Linked DNA regions of Homo sapiens: region 2 is linked to region 1. Evidence: fine-mapped expression QTL. Tissue or cell type: fibroblasts. Region 1 holds a variant in brackets; the other region holds the start of a gene. All regions are shown on one strand. Distances are between the middles of the regions.

Region 1 (8,184 bases):
TGTAGGAGGATAAAAAAAATTACAAGAACACTTCATTTTTGAAAACTCAAGTCTATACCACTGAGTCACAATAACGACAATTCTGCAAGCTTTTGGTTAGCTTACATTTTCTTGGCTTAACTATGGTAAACTAGGCTAAAAGTAAACCACATTGTACTTTTTCTTGTGTAAAATTATAATTTTACATAGTAGAATCAAGGACTTATGAATTTTGTCATCCTCTTCAAAAATCCCTATTTTTAGTGAGTCAGTAGAAAGTCCAGGATGCCACTGAAATAGATTCTTCTGAAATCAGTTAAATAATTACTATTATTTTTCAACGTTTTCAAAATAAGTATATCCTTGACCTATAAAAGAATGCCTGTGCTGACAATTTCTTGAATGTCACCATTTAATAAGCAAGACGTCATCATGAATGTACAATTACACTTCATTTGTGATGGTGGGTCCTTGCAACAGGAAGTAAGATTGGAGAAATGCATGGGAACTTTTGGAATAAATTCTCCATTCTGGTTTTATGATTTTAATATAAGTGCAACAGTTAGAACACACAACAAGAGAAAAGGACAGGAACACACTTGGGAAAAAGATGACTTTTCTATTTGAGCCAGCTATTTTAGAAAAATCCTAGAATACTTACAGTGAGTGTCAGAATGCCATCTGGTTGTACTGTTAATGTAAATTTTAAATGTAACTTTAAGGATTGATGCAGATTTTCTTTTGTAAAACCAGAAACATTAAAAGTTACACCATAGCAAGGGTCACAGCAAGGGGCAAGTGGGTTGCTTAATGGAATAATCATTTCAAATATATATATTGTAATTGCAGAAATCTGGAATCATAGGATAATCTGCATCAGTAATAATATTGGCACCTTGCTTTATAATAAAGTCCTTGAAGATTAAAGTGTACAATCATACTACAATCCTGAGTAGTAGAATCCTTGCCTCTAGAAGTGAGACTTGGATAGAGAGATGCATCTTTTCCCACAAGCTCTGAATTTCTTCCACAACTATGTTGAGTTACAGTCTGAAATTTTTTTTAGAAAGTAATACAATTCCATCACATGTAGAAGCTGTTAATCTGAATTAGGAATGGAACGAATCTGATAACATGGCCATGTAGACTTTTCAGCAAACTCTTCCCTAGGGTCCAGGCCGCTGTCCAAGTTGACTACCCTCCCAGCTTGAGGGGGTACTGCACTACAGAGGGGAAATATGGGGATAAAGCAGGAGGACTAGCACAGAAAGGCAGCAACAATAGTATCATGTAACATTTGCTAGCACCATGTATAACTCATGGTCTCTTTCCCCATGAGGACAATCCTTTTCTAGCACTCACAGTAATGACTTCCACTTGAGGTGGCAATTATTTGTATCTTCCCAATTTTTCCTTCTAATTTTATTCTGGTAAGGAGACTACATTCTCCACCACCAAAAAAGACTTAGATATCATGAAAACTGGAGCTAGGTCAGGTCCCTTTCCTCTTTGGTTAAAGAAGAGCTGCAAATATGTGGACTGAGAACTACCTCTGCCCTGTGGAGAAAACAATTTAAAAAATAAACACAAATTTGCAGAGAAAGTCAGAGAAAGGAGACAAGAGTCTTGACAATATTCAAGTCTTGCACTATCAAAGGCTAGTTCTACTCTATCCATCTTGAAGCCTGGTTATGTGAGGCAACATACCCACTTTTTAGCTAATATAAGTTGAACTTTTGTAATCCAAGAATTCCAACTCTTATACCTCCCTTTACCAGATGCTTATTTTCACCTGTATAAAAATATTAGCTTTTGTCTCTCCTCCCCACCACCCACCCACCTCAAAGACTATAAATAATGTAATTTGCCTCAACAGCAAACCCCTAGGGATGGCAATGTTTGAAATAATCCTTTTCAGATACTTAATCTTTTGATGACTGACTTTACATTACGTATTACCATAAATGCAAATCAGTAGCTCCTTTGTCAAGAACTCCCCTCCCAATACTACCTTCCTCTCTGGTACATAAGCTTTGAACTCGGTCAGCAAAAGGCAAGTGGCCATAGCTGGGTTAATAATGCACTACTAGTAAATATATCCATGGCAGTAATTTCAAAGGTGTAAAAGAGAAAGGCAGCCTTATTGAAATGTGTTCTTGCTTGTAGGTTCTTAAGACAAAAGCAATCTGACATCATCTCTCAAACTACGTGGGTAATTTGGTTTTGTTTTGGGGGTTGTTTTTGCTCAGAAACCTGAAGAATCTAACCATTCCCTATACAGTAAATTCTAGGACGTTCTGAAGAATTACAGCTTTTCTAGAGAGCTTAATATAATCTCTCATGAATAAAAACAAGTCATCTTATTTGTCCACAAGTTATTAAGTATCATCTGATGAGAATATAATGGCTTTTGTCAGCATCTGTGAATTAATCATATTCTAGTAAAAATGTTACAGCTTCTTTCTGCTACCCTATTAAATAATAGTCATTTTTTTGCAATCTTTTGTCATACTCTTTCTAGAGATGTTGGATTGAAATTCTAATGTTATAATGCAGATCATATCCTAAGGCAGTCTGACAACAGAATAAGTCCTGACACAATGTTCATTAATTATTAACAATAGCAGAAACCATTAGTCCAGTAAAACACAAATAAATGAGGTGAACAAATGAAATATATGGTGAGTCTTTGGTGTGCAATTTTCATGGGAAGAATTGTTATCTTCATTTTTCAAACAGGGAAACTAATGCACAGAGAAGTTAACGAACTTGCCACGTGTTACGTACAACTCCCAAGTAGTTTGAGAGTTGATGTCAGATTGCTTCCGTCCTAAGAATAAGGGGCAGAACTGGGATTGGATTAAAGTCTTTTGGACTCTACAGTGTATGTTCTTTTCACTATACCAGACTGCTCTCCCTCAACTCAAGTTCTGTGAAGCAGCAATTACAAAGCTTTCCCACCATACCTTCCAAGGAACCCTTTGATGACCATCACATTTCACAGAATTTTTTTTATTATAAATTACTCCTCTTGGAATGCCTATGGAGTAAGGGGAATATGTAGTTAAGATACCGAGGGAGAGTTAATGGAGATCGCCCACAAAAGGTCTACTTTTGGAAATGCTATTATATATAGATCAGCCTACTTTAGGAGCATTCAATTTTGGTTTCATTAAGTATGTATATACTTCAGAGCTAGAATTATATTTAAGAAATCTATTGTATATTTTTCCAGCATCTGGTCATGAGAATATTTCAAAGAAAGGAAAGCCCTTTGTTTTGTTAATGCATATCCCCTCCTCCCTGCAACTCCCCTCCCAACTAATGAAGTTACTCTTAGTCTCAGAAAACTGGTTTAGGAAAACTTTAAAAATATAACAAAAAAACAAGCCACTAGGCCGGGTGCGGTGGTTCACGCCTGTAATCCCAGCACTTTGGGGGGCCAAGGTGGGTGGATCAGGAGGTCAGGAGATCGAGACCATCCTGGTTAATGTGGTGAAACCCCGTCTCTACTAAAATACAAAAATTAGCTGGGCTTGGTGGCACATGCCTGTAGTCCCAGCTACTCGGGAGGCTGAGACTGGAGCATTGTTTGAACCCGGGAGGCGGATGTTGCAGTGAGCCAAGATTG[C/T]GCCACTGCACTCCAGCCTGGGCAAGTGAGACTCTGTCTCAATAAATAAATAAAATAAAATAAAATAAAATAAAATAAAATAAAATAAAATAAAATAAAATAAAATAAAAACAAGCCACTTAGTTGCTTAGCTCTTTCTACTTCGAGGCAGGATACAGTCTGTTTTGTTTGACTATTATCTCCCCGAACTTGTTACGCTATAGGTGACTGTTGAAGGGGAGGGCTTTACTAACTTAACTCTGGTTAGAAAACAAACAGTTACACAGTTGACTGAGCCTGAGGGTGGAACAGCTTTAAGACAGGAAAGATAAATCCTAAAAGACCATTCTAAAATATTTATATAGTTAATGGGAACAAAAAAATTCCCTCACAAACTATGGCTTCCTCCAAAGAGAAAAATAAGTATCACCAAAATGGAAGAGCTCCCACCTATTAAGTAAATGTTCTAAATTTGTTTCCATTTGCTGTAAAGAAATGTGTACATCCACAAGTTTTCTGAAACTGCTGTTACATTTCAATGTAAATTCTTTTTGGAAGACAAATGAAAATGCTGAGTAGGCTTTCCTTACCTTTCCTTCTCCCCCCACCCCCCCGCCTTTTCTTTGGTTTCTTTAAAAAAAGCTCTGAGCAACACACCAGTCTTAATGCATTAAGATTAGAAGCATGTGTCCAAAGAAAAGTTGGTCCTGACAGAAGGCTATTTTACTTCTTACCATTAGAAATGGGAAGAAAAGCTGCTGTGCAAGTGCTACATGTCACCAATCCAAAGAGGTTATGCCCTTTGGCAGCACATTTAAGAAAAACCTGTATATTGTTAGCTCTAATGATTTCCAGGTCTTTCTTGTTCAACTAGGGGTGCCTACCTGGCAACATATTAAAAGATGTTAAAATAAAATTCAGGAGACAGAAGACAGGCTGGTTGTCAAAAGAAAAAAAAATCAGATGCCAGTATGACAAAGACTTTTTATTTTGGAAGATGGGTAATAAGTGCATTAATAAAAAGGAAGAGTAAGAAGGGAACATTACCCAGTATTATCTGTTTCAGTTGGATTGGTTGCACACCTGCAATGTTTCTTCTGGGATACTGCAAAATGGAATTAACAAAGGTCTCTTAACAGGAAAGGAAATGACCCACAGATCAGACTGTCTCACTGGAGTGTCGTTTTAGAGATTACTATGGAAATTCTGGTCATGACATTCTAAAGAAACAGGTCTTACATCTCTGGGAATAACTTTTATTTGGTAGATTACTGAAATGTTAACTATGTGGAAGGGGGTTATTTTATATCTAATAAAGTGAAGCAACAGAAGCTATAAGAACTGTATTGACCTTTTTCATATCAATGATTTTATATATGTGTGTGTGTATATATATATATATAAATATAATTATATATTTTAGACATGTGTGTAAATGTAGAAATTAAACGCTGTGTACTCATTGCCCAGATAAAAGTGTTTACCACATCTGCTTCAGATACATTTTATTAAGACATAATGCTACTACAGATGCATCCAAAGACTGCATCTTTAACTGAATCTGTCCCAGTTTACCATTATTCTGGCTCTGGTATGAATCCTTGATACTCACACTTTAACTTTTGATACATATGACTGTAGCCATAAAAATATGGTTGTTTTATGTTTTTAAAATTTACATAAATGGCTCACACTGGCCTAAGCTTTTATATATAACTTGCTTTCTCCCAAATCAGCCTTGTTTTTACAATTTATCCATGTTGATGTGCTTCAAGTCAGTGACGAGTAAATAAATAAAATGAAATAAAATTGATCCATGTTAATATATCTAGATCTAGTACATTTATTTCATATATATAGTATTCCACTATATGAATATAAGCCCACAGATCCAAGAAACTCACTGAATCCCAAGAAGAAACATGAAGAAAATTACATTTAGACATCACAATCAAATTGCTCAAAACCACTGATAAAGAGAAAAATCTTTAAAGCTGCCAGAGGAAAAAAAGACATATTACACACAGAGGAACAAAGATAAGGATTATAGCATATTTCTCATTGAAAACAATACAACCCAGAAAATAACAGAGTAACATCTTTGAAGTACTTAAAGGAAGTCACCCTAAAATTGCATACCCAGCAAAAATAACTTTCATTATTATTATTATTTTTTAACAAGCTCCCGCTATGTTTTTAACAAGCTCCCACCAGGAGATCTCAAATTCCTGGCCTCAAGCGATCCTCCCACCTCTCGGCCTCCCAAAGTGTTGGGATTACAGGTGTGAGCTACCACGTGGCTAAAAAAACCTTTCAAAAATGGAGATGCTATAAAGACTTTTTCAGACATTAAAAAAAAATTAAAATAATTTATCACCAGCAGACTTGCACTATAAGTAGTCATAAAGGAAGTAAAATGACTAACAGATGAAAAACTGGGTATCTACAAAGAAATGAAGAGCATGGAAAATAATAACAAGCACAGGAAACAACAACCACACAGGTAAATATAAAGACTTTTGGTATTATTTAAATCTCCTTAAAAGACAACTGTTTAAAGCAAAATAACAATGTAGTGTGGGGCTTAAAACATATGTAAGAGTGAAATGTATGACAGCAGTAGCCCAAAGGCTGGAAGGTGAGAAATGGATATAGACTACTATGCTATGCATAAAATAGTATAATACCAATTGAAGGTATACTGTGATAGGTTAAAGATGTATACCATATACTTAAAGCCAATCATTAAAATAATATAGCAAACAGTTACAACTAAAAAGCCAACAAGAAAGATAAACATGCATGATTCATTTAAAATTCTGATAAACTGGAAGTCATTAAAATTAGAAACTTCTGCTCTTCAAAAGACACTGTTACAAAGACAAAAACACAAGCCACAAACTGGGAGTACTTATTTGCAAATGATGTTGCTGATAAAGGATTTGTATTCAGCATTAGAAAACCCTCAAAGCTCAATAAAAAAAATACACACACAATTTTTTTTAAAAGTAGAGAGAAGATTTGAACAGATAATTCAGCAAAGAAGACATAAGGATGGCAGATCACTAGTCATTAGCAAAATGCAAATTATAACCACAAGTAACACTACACACACATTAAAATATCTAAAATTTAAAAAACTAACCATACTAAGTAACAGCAGTGATACGGAGGTACTGGAACTCACACACTATTGGTGGAAATGTGAGGTGGTAAAACCATTTGGGAAAACAATTTAACTTAAAAAAATTATGCATACACCTAGCTTATTATCCAGCCATTTCATTCCAGGTGAAATGAAGGCATATGTCCATGCAAAGACTTATATATGAATGTCCAAGGAGTTTTGTTTCTAATAGCCCTAAACTAGAAATAACTCAAATGTTCATCAGTAAGTGAATGAAAAAAAAAAACAACAAAACTATAGTATATCTCTACAATAGATTACTACTAAGCAATAAAAAAGGAATGAACTATTAATTCATGCAACAACATGGATAGATCTCAAAATAAATAAGCTGCGTGAAAGAAGCCAGATGAAAAAGAGTTCATTTTATATGATTCTATTTACATAAAAATCTAGGAAATGAAAACTAATCTATAGTGACAAAAAGCCTACAGATGGCAGTGGGAAGAGAAAGGTGGGGAAAGAAAATATTACAAAGGGGTAGAGGAATTTGTGGTGATGAATATGTTCAGAATCTTGACTGAGGCAATAGTTTCATGTGTATACGTACATCAAACTTACCAAACCATATGATTTTAACAAAGTTCTTTACATCATCTAAACCTGTTTTCATTAATCATATTGTTGGTGCTGGTATTCTGAGTACTGTGTATGCACTGTGAGGTGAACAAATGAATACTTATGTGAAGTTCTAATTCTATCATTTCTGGCACCACTGAAAACCAAGGGAACCAATACTTTGTATGGGAAAAAGGAGATTCAAGACCAGAATTTTAATCATTTGAATTTGAAGTATCAGTATGAACTCCTGGTATCATTTTATCTTAAAGATATGCCCACTAAAAAAAGCCTAGAAACAATGACAAACCCAAGCGATGAGTACCTCTAGTGCCAAGGGAACCTTGGAGAAATGGCTGATTCCAGATCTGGGTTAGAAAATGTACAGATGAGCCTGGAACATGTTGTCAAATCTAGACAACTAGGGTTATGTCAAAAGGACTCAGGAGCCCAGTGACCAAAATAACAACTTGCATACCAATAAAGACAATGATTTCAGTGAAATAAAAATATCAAATATTTTTCTATTTGAAACTAAGAAATATTTTTCTATATGAAATATAACTTAAATCCATAAGTTAATTAACTGGTTACTGTTAGAGGATGCTAATGGATCAATTCATTATTTTGAAAATGAATAAAGCAAACAAATTATGCATTTATCCCATCATTTATAGAAACCGTACCTACCAACAAGTAATCAAATAGAAAATGAAGTTTCACTTTATAGAACTATTTCAGCTAACAAATACAGAAGACCTGGTAGAATTAGATTATTACCATTTTGCAAACCTTAACAAATTAATGGATCTAGGTATTAATCATCAATGTCTATAATATGAAAAAGCAG
Region 2 (8,184 bases), 51 kb after region 1:
TTCCATTATAATCATTTTAGAAAAAAGTTGTTTCCAATTCATAAGGTGCTTCCTAAATTAAAAAGATACATTCTGTTTCAGTTAAAAAGTAAAAAACCTCACTAATATCTTTACCTTGGGTTTCAGAATATTAGTGCAATTCCCGGTAGTTTGGTTTTCAAATCTCTAAACAGTCTTACTTAGGTCATACAACAGTTAAATTTCAAATATAATAAGGAATTCAGACAGCAAGTCATTGACATGTAAATATAAAAATAGAAAAGCATTTGCATACTAAAACATACACCTGGAACTCTTTCCTTTTTCATACCAAATTGTATTTCACCTGTAACAGCTGATGAAAACACTCAATGCAGTTAACTAGAAAAACTTGGTTAAAAAAACAAAGACCCGAATCACGTGATAACACAGGAGGACGGCCATCCACAAGCCAAGCAGAGGGGCCTCAAAAGAAACCAAACCTGTACCTTGATATTGGATTTCTAGCCTCCAGAACTGTGAGAAATAATTTTCTGTTGTTTAAGCCAAAACAAAGAAGGACCTGACTAGATCAATTAACCAAGCAGCAAAGATGCCAAAGCACTGTGCTAGGCGCTGAGGAGAAAAGGATTACTACAGTAGACAATCCTTACCCTCAAGGGGCTTACGAATGTAGTCAGTGACACAAGACAAACCTGAAGTAAGATGGTGCACAGAGGTGTACTTTAAGTACATGAGACAAACTCCATAGGTGGTAGAGCAGTCAATCAATTAAAAACCTCTAGAATGGCTTCAAACCAAATATATGTGGGCTTTCAGATATCAAAGATTCATAGTACCCACTAGCAGAACGTTTGCTGTGTGAGATGTTTCAGCACTCCAGTTCTTTATTGCCCCCTTCCTTAAAAAAATAAATAAATAAAATAAAAACTGCTACAAGTCACATCACTTTTTGATAGAAATGTAAGTGAAAAATGCCTTTTGAATATATTCAAGAATGCTGCAACCCATTTCCCTTTCAGTATCCCTAGTTTTTAGCATTGTATGTAAGGCACTAAAAAAGAAAGTAAGCATCCAGATCTAAGAAGATCCAAACAAGTGCTAAAAGTTATTAGTAAATCAATGACAAAATTTAAACCAAGGAACAACCGTTTTCCTGTCTGTTCCATCCCCCAACCAAAGCTTGGAAATCCTCAAGAGTTAGGCAAGGATAAGTTCACAGTTAAATCTCTGAGATAGTCTGTGGAAGGGAAGAGAGGAAGGCAGGAACAGGCAGGTCCCTGAGCAGAATGACCAAGGCACCATTACCAGCTATACTCTTTTCCACCTTGAATCCCACACACCTTGAAGAAAGGACCACGCTGCAGCAGAAACTTCCTTGGGGACTAGCTGAGAAAACACTGGACTCTACTAGTTTTTTTAAAAAATGGATGAGATCACTTAGCAGCCTAGATTATCAAATCTGAAATATAAATAAGATGGCCAGTTAAAATGCATAAACAATGCACCCATCAATTTTAGCCTCAAAAACAATGACGAAAGGAGATATTTACCGGGCTAGTTCCAAAGAGTTCATTTTCCTGTGGTAATGGGCGCTTTTCTCGGGAGTAACAATTTTTGAATGCACTGAAAATATCAATTCATCTATCCAAAGTGGAATCATTAGTCCTTGGGAGAAAACCCAGTTCATTCTAGTTTTGATAGGAACAAACATATTTTATTATAAACTACTAATCTTTCTAAGGTTAGACCAAATAGACCAAAATGTTATATTTAAGAAGCCCTTAGGCTTTTACAAATATCCTAGCACTAGCAAAGGTAGGGTCATTTGTTAAAAAAGTATTATTTCCTACTACAGCAACTGACCAACAGATAACAGCAACTTAAGAGGCACTAAATGACACTAAAACATTACACTGAATGTGGGCCACTGCATAGCTAGTCTACTAACCTCATTTGTGGTACTCATGTGTGATGCTATATTTAATGCATTCTTATCAAAAGGCTACAGCTACATACTTCTCAACTGTAGCTTTATGGTTTAAAATAAACCACTCAAGCAATGATCTTAACTGGTTCAACTATGAATCCTATCTTTCTTCTGGAGATCAAGATCACAAAATAAGTGAAAAGACAGAAAGGACAGGAAAGTAGTTATGCAAAGTATATCCTAATGACAAGAGTATTATAAAGGAATTCAGTCTGGATCAGGTGCTAACACTTAATGCCACAGGGCCACTGAATCAAACACACGAGATGACCAAGGTCTTCGTAGGAATTAGTATTGCATACATTCATCTACTGATCCTGTGTTCAGTGGCTTGCTTAGGTTCTAATAGAAAAGTTTGGTAGACAGCACACTTATGTGTGTTGCTCATGAGAAGGCGCTCCACCAAAACTTGCCATGAGCCTAGACAGCCAATGCATTAGGCCTCTTTACCACATAAGTGAGGGTGGCTTCCTACAGTTGGGTTGAGAAGCTTGCTGCACCTTGGTCAACATGGAGACAACCATTAGAGATGGACTCATCCAATGACAACCAACAGAAGAAACCATGAGAGGTTGTGTTTTTCTTTGGATACTCACCAGACAACACCAAAGGCTCCATATCCAATAGGTCTATCCGGCTCAATATCCAGCTGCTGCTGTGGATGATGCGAGTGCTGATGATGGTGCGCCTTAACTGTAGCAGCTGCGGCAGCCTGTACCTGAGCTGGGGCTGCTGCAGCTGGTCCAGGAGCCTGCCCCGGTGCCGGTGATGGGAAATATGGCTGTTGTTGCCCAGGGTTTAACATGGCTGCAGCTGCAGCCGCTGCTGCGGCTGCCGCAGCTGCCGAAGAGGTGTGCTGCTGTACAGGGTGTACAGCGGCAGCCGACCCCGGATGAAGATGGTGTTGAGGGTGGTGGTGGTGGTGCAGGTGAGGAGGAGGGAGGTGTGGAAGGTGGTGGTGATGGTGGTGGTGGTGACCTGCTGCTGCTGCAGATGTACCGCCATTGTAAGCCGCCATCATTTTTGCGTTGGCTCTTGCGCCACAAAGAGACATTCAAAATAAATGCCCTTTGATTGGAAAGCAAACTGGGTCAAGCTGTCATTTGGCCATTTAAAAATGAAGAAAAACCACTCACTCCACCTCAAAAAACATAGAGCTTTATGTCTTCATCAGTCAATCCAAACAAGTTAGAGGATCTTGGTGTTTAATTTTGGGGTGAGCGTGTGTGGAAGGGTGTGGGTTGCCAAAAGGAAAAAAAAGGGAAAAAAGAAAAGAAAAAGGAAAAAAGGACCCCTTCCCCCCAGGATTCCTGCCACAAGTGGGTACTAAAACTCCATTCTTAATTTGGGGGAGGTTCCAACTTTGAATGTGGGAATAAAGGCCAAACCTCCCGACCCCCTGAACTCCACACACGAAAAGGATCAGGTAACACACCACCCTTGGAATCTTGAAAGAGGGTTGACTCATCTACCCCTTCCATTCCCACATCCTTTTCTAAACACCTACCACCTCCTCAAAAACAGGATTAAAAAAAATTCCCACCACCCTAAATGGAGAAGATGGGGGGAAATTTTCTGGGAAACCAGCTTCCAGCTTCCCCCCCCCCGAACTCTCAGGCCTTCCTACATCTCCCCCTACTCCTAGTCAGGTTGACCTGATTGGGGAGGGGGGGCGGGGGTTCCAAACTTTCCTGGGCAGAATAAGCCAGGGAAGGAGGCTGGAGTGAGGAGAGGAGGCGACAGCAGGACAGAGAGGAGAAAGAGAGCCGGGGCAAAAGTGAAGGGAAGGAGGTGCAGGGAGGAATGAAAGATGTGGGCAGCGCTCGGACGCCCAGACGGAGGGAACCGCCCCGGGAGAAGGTTAGGGTCCCGGGGCCAAAGAACAGGAGCCCCGGGAGGCGGGCGGGGTACGGTCGGAAGCGGGCTGACTCCTGCCCCCGCCGCCGGCTGCTTCTGCTGAGGAGGGTTGGGGGGGAGAGCGGGTGGGTCCCCCGCGCAACGGCCCCGCAGGGCTCAAGGCTGCTCCGTCTCCCCCCCTCCCCCCCACCCGGCTTCCGTCCCCGCGGCCGCTTTCTCCTCAGCCGCCGCGGCCGCCTTCTCCTCAGCCGCCGCCTCCTCAGCCGCCGGTTCCGCCGCGGCCGGACTCACCTCCCCTAGCAAAGCCGGATAGAGCGGAGCCAGCGTCGGACACGCGCAACCAGCCGCCGAGGCCCCGCCCCCGCCTTGCACGGACCGGCTGCCCTAGCCAATCCACGCCCACCTGTCCGCCACCGCCTCCAATCCTGGGCCAGGAGCTTCAGACAGGCGCACTGTTCGGCCAGTGGCAACAAGGTGTGGGTCTTCCGGGGAAATCCCGCCCCCGATCCGGGATGGGCAGATAGAAAGACCAATCAAAGGCAGAGTTTGGCTTGACCGACAAGGCTTAAAGCCAATTAAAAAGCAAAGATCTTTGTGACATTTTTCTTTCGCCTCTCTCCTCTTTTCTTCTTCTTCTTTTATTATTTATTTTTTTTTTTTTGGCAGGAGCAGGAAGCTGCGTGGTAATCCCGCCTGCAAAAGCTGGAAGAGAGGGGCGGAACGAAAGAACCAATCATGAGCCAGAGACAAAGAACAGAGTAACCAATCCTTGGGTTGAAAATGAAGTGGGATGGAACCTGGGCCAAATAGACACTTGAAAAAACAAATGGAAAAAAAAGGTTGATGTAAGTCCCACCCTTTAGATCTCCTATAGGACAGGATTGTGGAGAATTTGCTGTCATATCGAGACAACCTCTTCAAGGGGCGGGGCTTAGGGAAGGGGTGGGGTCTTAAAGTGGGCGGGACCTAGACGAAGAAGGCGGAGTCCAAATCATCACTGGTCCACTGATCCGAGATGTCCAATATCCCACTTAAGATGTAAAGTGTGGGGTAAAAAATAGGGGAAGAAAAAGGGAATGTTGAGCTTCAGAAACTCAAGGTCCAAGGTCACTCAACAAGAAGACAAAGGAAACTCAAAAGACTGACAGAAACTCAGTAGACTGACAGTTCGTAGTCTACGGCCGGTCCTCTCCATAGTTAATCCTGATCTTGGCAAAAAGAGGAGGAATCTCTGGCATTCAGAACTCCACTGTCGACAAATGATAAAGCTGTTGGTGCAAATTAAAACAAAAAAAGTAAACTTGACCACAAAAATAATAATTTTCCTCTATCTTTCTTTCTTAACAGGGTCACATTCTGTCACCCAGGCTAGACTGCAGTGGCACAGTCCTAGCTCACTGCAACCTCCAACTCCCGGCTCAAGCAATCTTCCCGCCTCAGCTTCCCGAGTAGCTGGGATTACAGATGTGCATCACCATGCCCGGCTGATTCTTTAATTTTTTAGAAACAGGGTCTTAATATGTTGCCCAGGTTGGTCTCAAATTCCTAGGCTCAAGAGATCCTCCCACCTCCCACCTTGGCCTCCCAAAGTGCTGAGATTACAGGCGTGAGCCACCGCCTCCAGCCTCTCCCATATTTTCTATCAAGTAAGTTTCTGTCATTGAAATCTTACTAAAATAGCATCTTTCCATCACTTCATTTATCTGAATTTACCCTTCCTTTAAAATGTGAAATAATAAGCTTACAGAACCTTATCCCTACTGAAACTGTATAGTTTACTCAAAAACTTGGAAGTCATCTTCGATCCCTCCTTTGCCTGTCCACATTGTCCCTTCCAATCTATCAGTCATCAAGTCTTCTTTTTTTTTTTTTTTTTTTTGAGACATGGTCTCTGTTGCCCAGGCTGGAGTGCAGTGGCATGATTACAGCCCACTGCAGCCTCCACCTCTTGGGCTCAGATGATCCTCCCACCTCAGCCTCCCAAGTAGGTGGGACTACAGGCACATGCCACCACACCTGGCTAATTTTTGTATTTTTTTGTAGAGATGGGGTTTTGCCATGTTGCCCAGGCTGAATCATCAAGTCTTAAACAATTTTAAATCCCCCTCACTTCTGCTACTTCCCAGTCACACAGCATTTACCCAAATTTACACCACTAACATCTTTAACCATTTCCCTGCCTGCAAGCTAGCTCTCCTTTGATCCATCCCCCTCTGGGGGCATAGTAAATTTTTAAAAATACAAATCTGAGACCAGGGGCAGTGGCTCACACCTGTAATCCCAGCACTTGGTGAGGCCAAGGTACGTGGATCCCTTGAGTTCAGAAGATCAGTCTGGGCAATGTGGCAAAACCCCGTGTCTACAAAAAATACAAAAATTAGTGGTACACATGTCTCTAGACCCAGCTACTGAAGAGGCTGAGGTGGGAGGATAGCTTGAGCCAGGGAGGTAGATGCTGTAGTGAGCTGAGATCCCACCAGTGCACTCCAGCCTGGGTGACAGTGAGATCCTGTCAAAAAAAAAAAAAGGCTGGCTGTACCCCTAAATAGCCTGGCATGATCTGGTTCCTGCCTACCTACCTCAAGGGTCTTATCTCTCCCTTCCACTCCACACTTCAGACATTCTGAACTTCCTGCAGCTCCTTGAATGCTTTCAAGCCTTCATGTATATCTTCAGCCCAAAACATTTCCCGCTCATCCTTCACTGCTCTAATTCATCCCTCAGGTCTTCGTGTAAATTTTACTTTTTTTCCTGGAAAGTTCTAACTCTGTTCTAGAGTATACGTTTCTGTTGTATATCTCCATGACACTGCCTCCCTCATATCGATATTTTAAGTGCTTGTTGAGTTTGACCGGGGACAGAGAGCTTGTCTGTCTCACTCAATGTTGTATGCCCAGTTCCTTAGGACAGTGCCTGAAAAAAAAGAAGACACTTGCTACAGATTTGCCTGAATTACTGAGTGCAGAAGTGGGTACAAACCCAAGCTCTGCCATTTACTTACTCTATAGTTTAGGCAACTTAACTAACCTTTCTCAATCTCAGTTGCCTCAACTGAAATAATACATGACTCATGAGGTCTATATGAGGGTTAAATGAGGTGATGTATTTAAACGTGCTTGGCAAATAGTGAAAATGCAATATAAATTCTCTTCAACACTCACCCTCATGTAATATTTGAGATGTTTCCAATTTTCCAATGCACAGCACTCTCCTCCAAAGTGTAGTTTCCTAAAAGCTTCTTAGATGTTCAGCAAATTATCTGGTTTCACCTCAGACCTACTGAATAAGAATTGGAGGAGGAGAGGAGGAATCTGTTTAACAAGCTCTCCAGGTCATTCTTACAAACGCTAGAGCTTAAGAAGCACAGGCCTAGAGTAAAGGAGCTTAGTCTTTGTAAACTTTCTTTTTCAGCGCTTAGTATAGTACTATAATAATACATAGAAAGTGCTTGATACATGTGAAATAAATAAATTAATCTAATCCACGAGAAAACAATTGTACATTAAGAGTTATTTATTCCTTCCACAAACATGTATTAAGCACCAATTATATCTAGGCATGGTGCTAACTTCAACTGTGGGGGAGAGGAGATAGATGTACAGATGCTTCTGGACTCATGATGAGTTTGTGTCCCTTCTTTTTTTCTTTTTGAGACGGAGTCTCGCTCTGTCGCTCAGGCTGGAGTGCAGTGGCGCAATCTCGGCTCACTGCAAGCTTCGCCTCCCAGGTTCATGCCATTCTCCTGCCTCAGCCTCCTGAGTAGCTGGGACTACAGGCGCCCGCCACCACGCCCAGCTAATTTTTTGTATTTTTAGTAGAGATGGGGTTTCACCATGTTAGCCGGGATGGTCTCGATTTCCTGACCTTGTGATCCGCCCGCCTCGACCTCCCAAAGTACTGGGATTACAGGCGTGAGCTACCGCGCCTGGCCGAGTTTGTGTCCCGATAAGCCCATCGTATGTTGAAAATGCATTTAATACCCTAACCTACTGAACATCGTAGCCTAACCTACCTTAACGTGCTCAGAACACTGACATTAGCCTACAGTTCTGCAAGATCATCTAGCACAGTCTATTTTATAATAAAATGTTGAATATCTCATAATTTATTGAATACTGTAGTGAAAATGAAAGGCTGAATGGTTGAGGCCGGGTGCAGTGGCTCACACCTGTAATCCCAGTACTTTGGGAGGCTGAGGCAGGCAGATCACGAGGTCAGGAGATAGAGACCATCCTGGCTAATGTGGTGAAACCTCGTCTCTACTAAAAATTCAAAACATTAGCCGGCCTGGGAGGCTGAGGCAGGAGAATGGCGTGAACCCAGGACGCGGAGCTTGCAGTGAGCCGAGATCACGTCAC

Evidence for each region. PIP is the estimated chance that this variant, and not a neighbour inherited with it, causes the effect.
Region 2: it holds the start of NLK, and the variant in region 1 is fine-mapped to the expression of NLK in fibroblasts (GTEx, PIP above 0.99).

The regions. Positions count from the first base shown.
Region 1 is chr17:28,088,284-28,096,467 of GRCh38, reverse strand. The region is part of intron 1 of NLK (nemo like kinase); the gene reads right to left. Among named protein-coding and RNA genes, the nearest start is that of NLK, 50 kb to the right of the region's middle. The variant C/T (reference allele first, on the strand shown) is at 3,611.
Region 2 is chr17:28,037,713-28,045,896 of GRCh38, reverse strand. It overlaps NLK (nemo like kinase), which reads right to left and starts at 3,220. Exons shown (of 11, transcript NM_016231.5): 1 at 2,566-3,220. The coding sequence starts at 3,023. It overlaps LOC105371709 (a long non-coding RNA gene), which reads left to right and starts at 4,177. Exons shown (of 3, transcript XR_934637.4): 1 at 4,177-4,300; 2 at 4,493-4,671. It overlaps LOC102724517 (a long non-coding RNA gene), which reads right to left and starts at 2,559. Exons shown (of 2, transcript XR_001752820.2): 1 at 1-2,559. RefSeq lists silencers at 3,833-4,062, 4,083-4,312 and an enhancer at 4,480-4,774.